Regions from separate parts of the Homo sapiens genome. Here region 2 is linked to region 1. The links come from fine-mapping of genetic effects on gene expression. A gene starts in region 1. The other region holds a variant in brackets. All regions are shown on one strand. Distances are from middle to middle. Region 1 holds the start of CNTN5 (contactin 5). Region 2 has its middle 280 kb from the start of CNTN5.

The links. PIP is the estimated chance that this variant, and not a neighbour inherited with it, causes the effect.
Region 2: its variant is fine-mapped to the expression of CNTN5 in thyroid (GTEx, PIP above 0.99).

Annotation. Positions count from the first base shown.
Region 1 is chr11:99,018,269-99,023,658 of GRCh38, reverse strand. CNTN5 (contactin 5) reads right to left here and starts at 2,710. Exons shown (of 25, transcript NM_014361.4): 1 at 2,389-2,710. RefSeq lists a silencer at 133-333.
Region 2 is chr11:98,733,909-98,739,298 of GRCh38, reverse strand. No RefSeq gene overlaps it. Among named protein-coding and RNA genes, the nearest start is that of CNTN5, 280 kb to the left of the region's middle. RefSeq lists a silencer at 4,593-4,793. The variant C/T (reference allele first, on the strand shown) is at 3,122.

The DNA of each region.
Region 1 (5,390 bases):
TGACTGATGAAGGAGACACTAAACTCTGCTACAACTTTGTTTTAGCCAATCAAACTCTCTACAGTCAAATCATCTTCACAGTATTACAGCCATCTAGAGAAGTTTTCATCATTTTTATTTTAATCTTCACAAATTATGCCTTTATTTTGTCTAGAAGTAAGACAAACTCCAAAATGCTTTGGCCAGCCTATGCGGGCCCTTTGCCCTTTACTGGCACCCTCTGGTCCATATTGCTAAGTCAGCTGTGACAGACAATCACACTCCTACCTCTACCCTGAAAGTGGTCAAGATTTTCTAAACTGTGAAGTAAAAGAGACATTTAAAGAAATACATATCAGCCAAACCTGGTACATTTCTAACAGATAGCGCTACTTAATTGGACACATAAGATTGAAGTAAATTTTTACATGCTACTAATTTTAATGATTCATCTTACATAAACATATTCTATGTATAGATTCATGATTTGATTTCAGGTTGGCTCCCTGACTAAGAATTGTTTCAGACCACCTAATACTTGAAGTACTAACTGCTCACCTTGAGAAACATTCAGGTATTTCAGCTATTCATTTAAAAATTCCACAACTGTAGCTTTTTGGATGTATTTCCAAAAGCACCTTGGTGTGCATGTGCCTCACAACTTATAGACAAAGTCCGGCATTTAGTTAATCTATGGGATTATATTTTTATATAACTTTTAAGAATCTAACTTTCTGTTCAGTTGTCTATGGAATCAGAAAGAAATTAAAATTAGCAGTTTTTCTCCTCCTTTCTCAATTTTCAGAAGTTTTAAATAATTTAAAGGATACACCAATTCCTAAGCAAAAACACTGGCACTTGTAATAATCATTTCACTGACTTTCTATTTTCAGATAGGCTTTAATATCATTCCCTCACACTCCAGCTATTTGTCAAATTCTATTCTTTATATTGAATTTCCCTTTTTATAACTTTAACTCTGATTTTTTTTGCCTTTTTCCCTTTAATGGACTTAGATGATCTTTTTATGTAATATCTTTAATTTGTTATCATTAGTTTTATATGACATATTCTTACTCATACCTCTTTTCGATTAGAGTCAGAGTAAACTTATGCCTGTTAAGTTTAAGACTCAGCATACTAGTCCCCACTTAACTTAGAATAATTTGAGCATGAAATAGGAGAATATGCAAGCAACCATGAGAATTGCTCAAAATTGACTACAGGCATTTTCAAAAACAGTTAATGACCTAATCATTATTTTTTAAAATACTGAGAGTCACAATATTAATCATAATGAACTCCTTTAAGCTCCCTGTAATGGTCATAAGTACTTCTGTAATTCTGTTGCAATTCAACAGTAATCGATGATATCTGCATTAATTTTTAAATTTGACTATTTGTCTATAATTTTAAATGCTAGTATTCTAATGAACATCTACTTCTTTCATCCTTATTTCCACAGTCGTAATTGAGAATCAAAGTAGAAGTATTGACCCTCTAAATGATTTTCTCTTTTAAATTAAGAAACAAATGAATGAAATGTAGGTAAGGCATTGAACATACAACAGTTTAAAAGTTTTTTGCTTCTCACCTGCATTTAAATTACCACATGAAATTGTATTTTTCTTGGGAGAACAGTTCTAAGATTTAAAAGTAATATAATTCTAAAATATTTAGTGGATTCTGGTTCTTTCGCAAATAAATATAGTTGAAACAACTTATTGTTCAGGTCATCAGAGTAATTCTCAGGTTTGTGTATGTGCAAATTGATATTCTCTTCCGTATATCTCCCTACAAAACATGGTAAGGATGTCTGAACATAATTTTTTAATCTATCACAATCCTATACAACCTTTAGAAAAAAGCTCAGCATAATCCAAGATACAGTTTTTCTCAGTCTCACGAACTTTGTAGAACTCCACTTATAGAGCATCCCTACTGAATTTTAACAAGTTATTGCAATGCCAGATGCCCAATTATTTAGTCTCGGAAACTCATTGCTCAAACATAAGGCATACATTCAGTACCTGAGAACGGCATCCTATTTTCCAAACATTTAGTTTCTTTTGTAGAAACATCCTCACTTTATCCTGGCATTTATTGCCTTACAATTTGCAATTTGCGTGTAGGAATTGCTTACTCTTATTTTGGGTGGCATTAGGAGATATACAAATAGGTTATATTTACTCTTGTTTCAACTTTTTGCCATAAAATCCCAGCAGGAAATAAAGTCGTGTTTTGTTTCCTTTATTTAAAAAAGCTTCATCTTACAGTTTTTACATTCTGGCAACATGGCAAGAAAGGATGGCTTTGCAGAACAGAGTGTGTCAAAAATCCTAAGTGGCTGGGAGATGAAGTGCACAATCACAGAACGCAGTCACTGGCAAAGGAATGTCAGCCACTTACCAATAAGATGCCAGACTCCACTGTCCTTCCTCTGTGACTCTCAATTCCTGTCTCCCATCCTCCTGCCCATCAGCACAGTTCAGAGAGAGCGGTTCCTCGGGTCCTTTGCAGCCTGTGGCAGAGGCGAATTGCGGAGTTCTTAATCATTCAGAGGGAATCCTCCAGCTTGCCCTGCCTCTCGCAGCAGACGGGACCCAGGTAACGCATCCTCTCCGCCCCGAGCTTTAATGGCACTTTGGCTGCCGCCTTCTCGCAGTTCCGCTCCCCCACGCCGTAGTTGGTTATATTGGGAAGTAGGTGCGGCGCCTCCTGCGGCTGGTGTGTTTGGGGCTCGCGTGTTTTCCTCCAATGCGTCCGCGCGCCCTGCGCCCCGCGCCTCTGACTGGCTGTGTCCTCCCGGGGCGGCCCCTCGCCCCTCCCCGGCCGCCCGCGCTGTCACCGGCGCCCGCGTCCAGCGCCTCACTGCCTCTTGCTGCAAAGGTTCATTGAGCATGTCCCTGGGCTTAACGAACTGTGCGCCTCCCGGAGGGTGCTCTGTGTTTCTCCACTCGTCTCACTAGTCAACCGGCATTTTCCTTCCCTGCTAAGTACAGAGGACCTGCCCCCCTTCCCCGAGCGTTTCTGCTCTGCAACCCCTCCGTATTTAACATTCATAGATTACAAAGCAAACGTGCTGGCTGGAGTCGGCACGGGAGATCCAGGCGAGAGTCCCTTCCTCCGCTCCTGTCTTCACTCTGATTCCTGTAGTCCCCGGCTCACACCTCTGACAGCAGCAGCACAGACTGACGCGTTCACTTAGGTCGGTTTGAGAGTGGACTTTTTCACTTTGCAGAATTTTCTTAAGTCCTGAATGGGAAGCACTTCTCTTTTGTTTCTGCACTTACGCGTTTCATCTAAGGACTATCAGGCTCTGCCTGTTTATATTTCTCTTTGATTTGGGGTGTTGACTCAGTTCTAAAAAAAAGCGAAGGAATGGTCTCAGCAACCTTTTTTTCGGAATTTTTATATTACAATGGCTGTAATTGGAAAAATAACACAGGTAGTAAATCCACAGTGTGGCAGCTTTAGTGCCATTGTTCTGCCAGTCCTCCTCTCTACTTTTTTTTTTTTTTTCCTCTCAGTCTTTGAGTCGTTTTCCAATTCCCACGATTGGGCTGATGGTAATTGGGTATTTGTTAAATAAATTATATAACATTTCCTTTGCAATATATTTCCATAGAGAATGTGGTTTGCACCTGTATTTAATGGAAAGGAAATCCCACGTACTGCTTTCTATCTCTGTGTCTGTATAAGAAACTGCATGGGAGTCTAGGGTCGCACCCCGTGTCCGCTGGTGTCCGTTTTTCATGTGTGTTTGAGAGCAGCCTGACCCTGGACTGACGCTGATTCTTCTGCTCACTGAATCCCCCGATGGGGTCTGACTGGCTCTAATTGGCAAGGAGAGTACAGTGCCAGGCAGCCTGTAGCTGGAAGCCGTCTACCACTAGCCCTGTGTTCTTTCTCTTGCAGTTTTTCTGGTAATTAAAATTAGTCTTTTCCTGTTTCTTGGCTGCTTCTCATTCATCCAATGATGTACAAACACCCAGTCTCTGCTTTTAATCGCTATCCTCAGGATCTAGGCTGATTGCTTGTTCTGTAGCAAAGACAAATTTGTGTGCATTTAATACTTCTCCACTCTTCCATACTTTTTATATTCGTGTTCCTGCTTTCCAGTAACTAGGTTATCTTCTTTATGTGTTAACTGAGGGATCGTTGTGGAGATTCCCCTTCTGTGGCTTTTTCTCTGCCCCACTGGCTCTTCTCCTCTGTCAGGCTGTCGGTTCACAGAGAGAACTACCAGGACTTTTATAACCACATTAAATACATCACAAAATAAATTCAAAGTGTAGGAGCTCTAACGCATTCTTTTTATTGTTCGATGAGGTTTTTGCCTTTAAAAGTGTATAATTGAGCACATGCAGCCTGAAAGAGGGATCGGGAGTGTAGAAAGCTTTCTGAAAGTTCTCTTCCCTTCTTAGAACACCATTCTATATTACCCATGATCCGATAATTTGGGCATTTTGAGTCATTATGTCACATAATTTCTTTCAACTAGCTTTGCCCTAGAAAGGATGTAAGTTGGCTTATAAAAATCTATTCAGTTTAAAAAAATGAATAAAAAATGTAGGTCAGTGAGATCAAGACAAACGGTAAAGTGATAGGAGGAGAGATAAGATGAAGCCAGAAATGAGGTTTATAGAGAAAACTGCATTGATGTTTTTGTTACAAATGGTGCTAGGTCTGCCATTAACTTTGTTAGCAGCCAATGTAAAGAAGGAAATGCTATCGGTCACATGATTCATGGTGCCCTCCTACCATTAACATGAACAAGAAAATTTACCTTTTACATGATGTAAATGGACTAAATATTTCTCCTTTCTTAAGCAAGAACTAAATAAAAGCTTTTAATGTTTCTACTTTTTATAAAGAGAGCAATATTATCACAAGACTATGGTGTGAATATATTTTTGAAACAAGTAGATAATGTAATAGCACTTTTCCTTGCGAAGTTATCTGATGCTTTAGAGGGAGAGAAAGGAAACGTTGAATCTGTTTAATTAAAAATAGTAAGGTCTATTTCTGTCAGTTCAAATTTAAAATGTTGACTTCAATCATTATTTGGGGGTGACTAGGTTACCTGGCTACACTTCATTCAGGACCCAGAAAGAGTGACTATATTTATTCTCATGTCTTTTATGACTTTTAATGTTCTAATTTGTAATAATATACAATTATATATTCCCTATTAATATCTATATATGTAACAGACAAACTGTTAGTCTATCTGACTCATCTTTCTTTAGAATTTTGCTGTTATGGAGTTAACTTATGTACTGTATATTTTTACAATTTTCTGCTTGGAGAGTAAGGGCTCTATAGATCAGGTACACTTCTGTATCCTTTTATATCCACAGTGTTCAGGTTTAAGCAGGTCAATGTCTGGAATTAGAGAAACAACAGTG
Region 2 (5,390 bases), 280 kb after region 1:
TGTGTGACCATCCTCCCCCCAATATACACATGCACACACACCTCTACACAAACACTTATTTGATAGATTACAGGGACCATTTTAAATATTAATAAATTCATGATTATACTACATATTCACATTAGAAACAGAAAACTGTAGACCAGAAATAGTGATGAAATGCTGAAGGAAGGAAACAATTGGCAATCTACAGTTATAGATAAGGCCTAACCCCATTGTCTATGGTTTTGTGCTGTTTCATCTTGTTTTGTTTTGTTTTGTTTTGAGATAGGGTCTCACTTTGTCTCCCACACTGGAACACCATGGCGTGATCATAGCTACTGTAGCCTCTACTTCCCCGACTGAGTTCACCTCTGTCTCCTGAGTAGCTGGGCGCAGGCAGAACCATCTTGGCTATTTTGACCCTTATATATTTTTTGTAGAGAGAGTCTCACTACATTGCCCAGGCTGGTCTTGAACTCCTGGCCTCAAGCAATTCTCTTGCCTCAGTCTCCCAAAGTGGTGGGATTACTGGTGTGAGCCATGGTGTCCAGACTTGTCTAAGCTTTTAGAACTCAAATTGGACCACAGAAACGAGGATGTGAGCCAAAGTCATGCTTTTACCATGGCACAAAAATTAGTGTTTCTGGAGTTGTGCATAACCCAGGATCAGAATCATGCATCAGACAGTGACCCAGAACCCAAAAATGGGCCACATCCCAAAATCAGAAATGAAACACATATTTGTGTGAGGTGAGGCTACGGAATTCTTAGGCCAGACATAAATTTCTTGTTATTATTAAATATATTACCCATTTATCAATTTATTTCTTATAAATCATTTAAATTGTAATTATTTCCTTCTTTAAAATGACTTGAAATATGAAACAGATTATTTGCTATGTACTTCCTAATTAATATTTGCTCCCTACTGAGAACAATTCATGCCTGGATCCAAGGTGAGTTAATTTTTTCTTGAATAAAATATTAGAAGCTGAAATATATTTTATTTCTACTTTTAAGGTAACTTATACACATCTCTGAGATATCCTTCTTTTATACAATGAAACGGTTACTGCATTTTTAAGACAAAAAGTCTATATCTTGCTTGTATTTGGTAAAGAATGATTTATAATAAGTATTTATTAAATTCACAATTGATATAATTAACAGTTCAGAATTTTACAGTTAATCTATATGAGAGTATTTGCAAGTAATTATACTTGATTCTACATTTTCAATATCGTCAACATTTCAGTGAAAGAGATGAACTTGCATGCATTACTACGTTGTAAGCCAGCAAACCAGTAAGCTTTTCAACCAGTTAGGTTTGTAAAGTTTACCCTTACTTGGTAATACTTAAGTCATCATAAAAAAGTTAATGGGTGCAGCACACAAACATGGCACATGTATACATATGTAACTAACCTGCAAGTTGTGCACATGTACCCTAAAACTTAAAGTATAATAAAAAAAGAAAAGAAAAAGAAAAAAAGAAAGAAGAGTAACTAACAAAGGTGAAAATGCAAATTAACAAAAGCCGAAGAAATTTACCTTGATCACGAATATGTCTCTCACTGGAGGCCAGTCATGATGACCCTATTTCATTCCTGCAGGTCCTCCCCTCAAGTACTTTTTTAGAAAACGGCAACATTAAAGGAAAGCTGCCATTTCAAAATAAGTAACATTATAAGGAAACTAGCATGGGAATTTTCTTATTTACAACCAACGTCTCTCAATACTTAACTATAAATTCTACAAAGGATCAGAACATATTTCTTTAAAAATGAGTTTTATTATATCAAAGAAAATAATGGGGTATCCCAAACTGCAAGACAAAAAAGAAAGACTAGATTTCAAAGAGATTATAATAACACAGAAGGAGATGTGATGTAAACTGGTAGAGCTCAGGAAATAAATGAAAGTGAAAAGTAAGATATTACAGAAAGTAGAGCCTCATTTAAAATGTCGATTCTCCCCTGATTACTCCAGTGAGTAATCTGCTGCCAGGAATGTACCGTGCCAAGGCCCCCAATCACAGCAGCAACCTTTTTGAAAAGGAAGAGTGACAATCTTGTATTTTGAACAGGTTTTTATTCAAAGGCTATAATTACACATTGGCAACTCTCATTTTCCTTTCTTATAGCTGCTTCTCCTCCCAGGAACTTCAAATGTATCTCCCCACCTGGAGTGCTTTCTGCTGCTCTCCATGCTCGTTTTCAATTCAGGGCGGAGGGATCATGAAATGCTGAGATTTCCAGCACCGAGGTCTAGCGATGACACGCTGTGAAACTGTCTCCACATCAACCCGAAGCCAGCAGGCTCCCAGCCGTCCTTAGGCTTGTCAGAAGCAGGAACCCTAATGAAAACACCTTGGCAGATGCACCATAAAAAGAAACTAGGAAATAATACATTTGAGAGGAGAAATCTGAGGAAATGCCAAGATGCCATCTTTTTTTTTTTCTTTTTTTTTTTACTAGAAGGCCTCCTCCTTAAACTATTTGTGCATTTGATAGTAGCACAACTTTATCATGCATCTCAGGCTTACAGAAGCACGTAGAACCAAGAAAGACGTTTTCCAAAATTGTTTCAGTGTAAAATAACTCTTACATTAGTGTCTTTCCATTTTACATCAGGTCGGACTGAGGATGTAAAATATGTGTCAAGTAATGCGGAGCTCCTTGATACCTGCCAGAAGTCGCAGTACCTTAAGAATCATTACATTCCATTTTATGTCAACCTTTTAGGGAAATGAATGTGTTTTTGACAATGGCACTGCTATTCAAATGCTACCAAGCAATAAAAATGTTGGAGAGACCGTAGCATTCGTTGATTTGTGAGAAGTGGTTTTAGTTCTAGGTCACCTATAAGTGGCCATGTAAGCTTACTACAGTAATTTAGAAAAACTTGTTTCTGAGTTTTCTCATTTGTAAAATGAGCTACCAACATCGGCCACGCGGATTTAACGGGGATTTCAAAGATTTCCTTGCACTTTAATAACAGTCTGCTTTACAATTAAAGATCTCTTCCTTCCAGTAATGCACCCACCCACTCTAGCTTATCGCCCAGGTAAACTCTTCTTTTTTATTATTTTCTCTTTATTCTCATCATTTTCCAACTTCCCAATTTCCAAGAAATAATA[C/T]TTGTTTTATTCTCTTTTATAGTTCAGTGGTTTTTACTAAACATGCCAATTCCTTACTTTGAGAGGTTGTTTTACTGGCTTGGTAGAGATCATGACCTGCAATTCTTTAAAAAGTCACTGATGATTCTGATGAAAAAAAAAAATCTTTGTGTAGTACAATTTAAGAAACCCTCTGATGACAGCTTCTCTTATGTATTTCTATTACGGTATTTCCACATGTTATAATACAACTGGCCAGGCGCAGTGGCTCAGGCCTGTAATCCCAGTACTTTGGGAGGCTGAGGTGGGCGGATCACCTGAGGTCGGAAGTTCGAGACCAGCCTGACATTGTGACAATGAATGTTATTACAGTCACAATTATATAATAATGCAATATAGATATCAAGCCAATAGATTTTTAAAAATTGGACTTATAGAAAATATGCATTAATGCTAATGTCTGACAAAAGAAATAAAGATGAGATCAATGAAATACAAATAGCAAGCAGCTAGAATTAATCCTAATCACATCAGTGTTCTTATTACGTACAAATGGTCTAAACACCCTGATTAAAAGGTTGAGATTGTCAGTTCACATTGAGAAAGAGAGATCTAAGTATGTTCTGCCTGCAGGGAATAACTTGATATATAACAACACAATGTAAAAACATGAAATTAACTTCAGAAACGTTAAAGATCTCAGTGAACTCACTCTCTCATGCAAAAACAACAAAATACTGGCAAAACAATTAAAATAAACTCCTTCAGGACTCTATTAATTAATGCCACAGAAAGAGTTGAAAATCTTCTACCAAGAGAAACTATGGAACCTCAATAAGAAAGCAGAGTGTATGATGTTTGCCCAGGCCAGTGGTGTGGTAGCTAGCTATGAACGAGTGACAGCCTCGTACCTAACAGAGAAGAATAACCTATTGCGGAGCTCTGTTAAAAGCTCCATGGCCAGAAATAGTCAATATTTAGTCCAGATTTTCAGGTCTCAGGAAAATTTCTACATGCAAGATTTTGTGGTTATTTATTTTGACTCAGCGCTCAGTTCAGGCAAACATAAAACAATAAGCAACAAATGAACAAACAAAAAACCTACCTTCAGGGTACTACCATAAACTATTGTAATATGTTGACAATATCACAGCTGCTTTAGGCTGTAATTTAATTTGGGACAAAGAAGAGTCTGGCAAAAGTTTAAAATGACATCCTGGTAAACTAGGCAATCATAGGCAGCTTTGAAAAGTTTTGACAGTCTTGGGGATAGAAAAGCCTGTACATGCTCAAGGCTAGTTTCATGCCCAAGACATAAATGGTGAAGTCATCAGTCACTCACTTCTGACTGACACAGAGGCCTTGTGCAAGCAGGAAATGAAAGCTAAAACTGTATCATAGCTTACCTGAAGCTTGAAGGTATGCCTTTTCACACATATACCCCAAGTAAGGGGTGCAAGTTACACAGTTGAGGGATCTAAGAAAATCATCTAACCTGCCACTAGAGGATCACTAAATTATACTGATCTTTATGCAGAGGAAGTCAGGCTTAAAGAATAAGAAGTTGAAAACAAAACGAAACAAAACAAAATCAAAAGGCTAGTAGACAATGTAGTGGCCTCACACTGTAAGGAATGTATAACCTACAAAATTTGTCCAGCAAAGTTGCAAAATTAACAAAAAGCAATAGTATCAAGAAACAACAATCTCTGGCCAGGCAGTGGGAGGGTGGGGATCCCTAATATCAGCATTGTTACAATATATCAATTAAAGTGCCACATTTTAATAAAAAATCACAAAACCTGCAAAGAAACCAAAAAGTAAGTCACATACTAAAAAATTTAGCCAGAACAAACATCCTGGGGGGCCAGATGTTGAACTTCTCAGAAAAAAAGACTACAAAACAGCTATTATAAACATGTTTACAAAAACCAAAGGAAACCAAGTCTAAAGACTAAAAAACAAAGTATGCCAGCAATGTCTCACAAGACACAGAATATCAAAAGATTGTCATTTAAAAATCCAAATCTGCTTGTGAATACCCCTTCATGCTTCTGTATCTGCTAGAAAATTCTGCATATGAAATTCTGTGGTCATTCACACACAGAAACTACATTGATGTAGGATTTTTCTTCTCAGTCACTTTGCAGGCTGGGGAGCCCCAGCCAGTGACACCCCACCAGGGTCCCACTTGGCCACACTGGCGTGACCCAGCTCACCTGAGTGCAGGATCTTTTATGGACTCAGAATGGGGAGTGCATGCTGATTGGTTTGTGAGTATGCAAAAAAT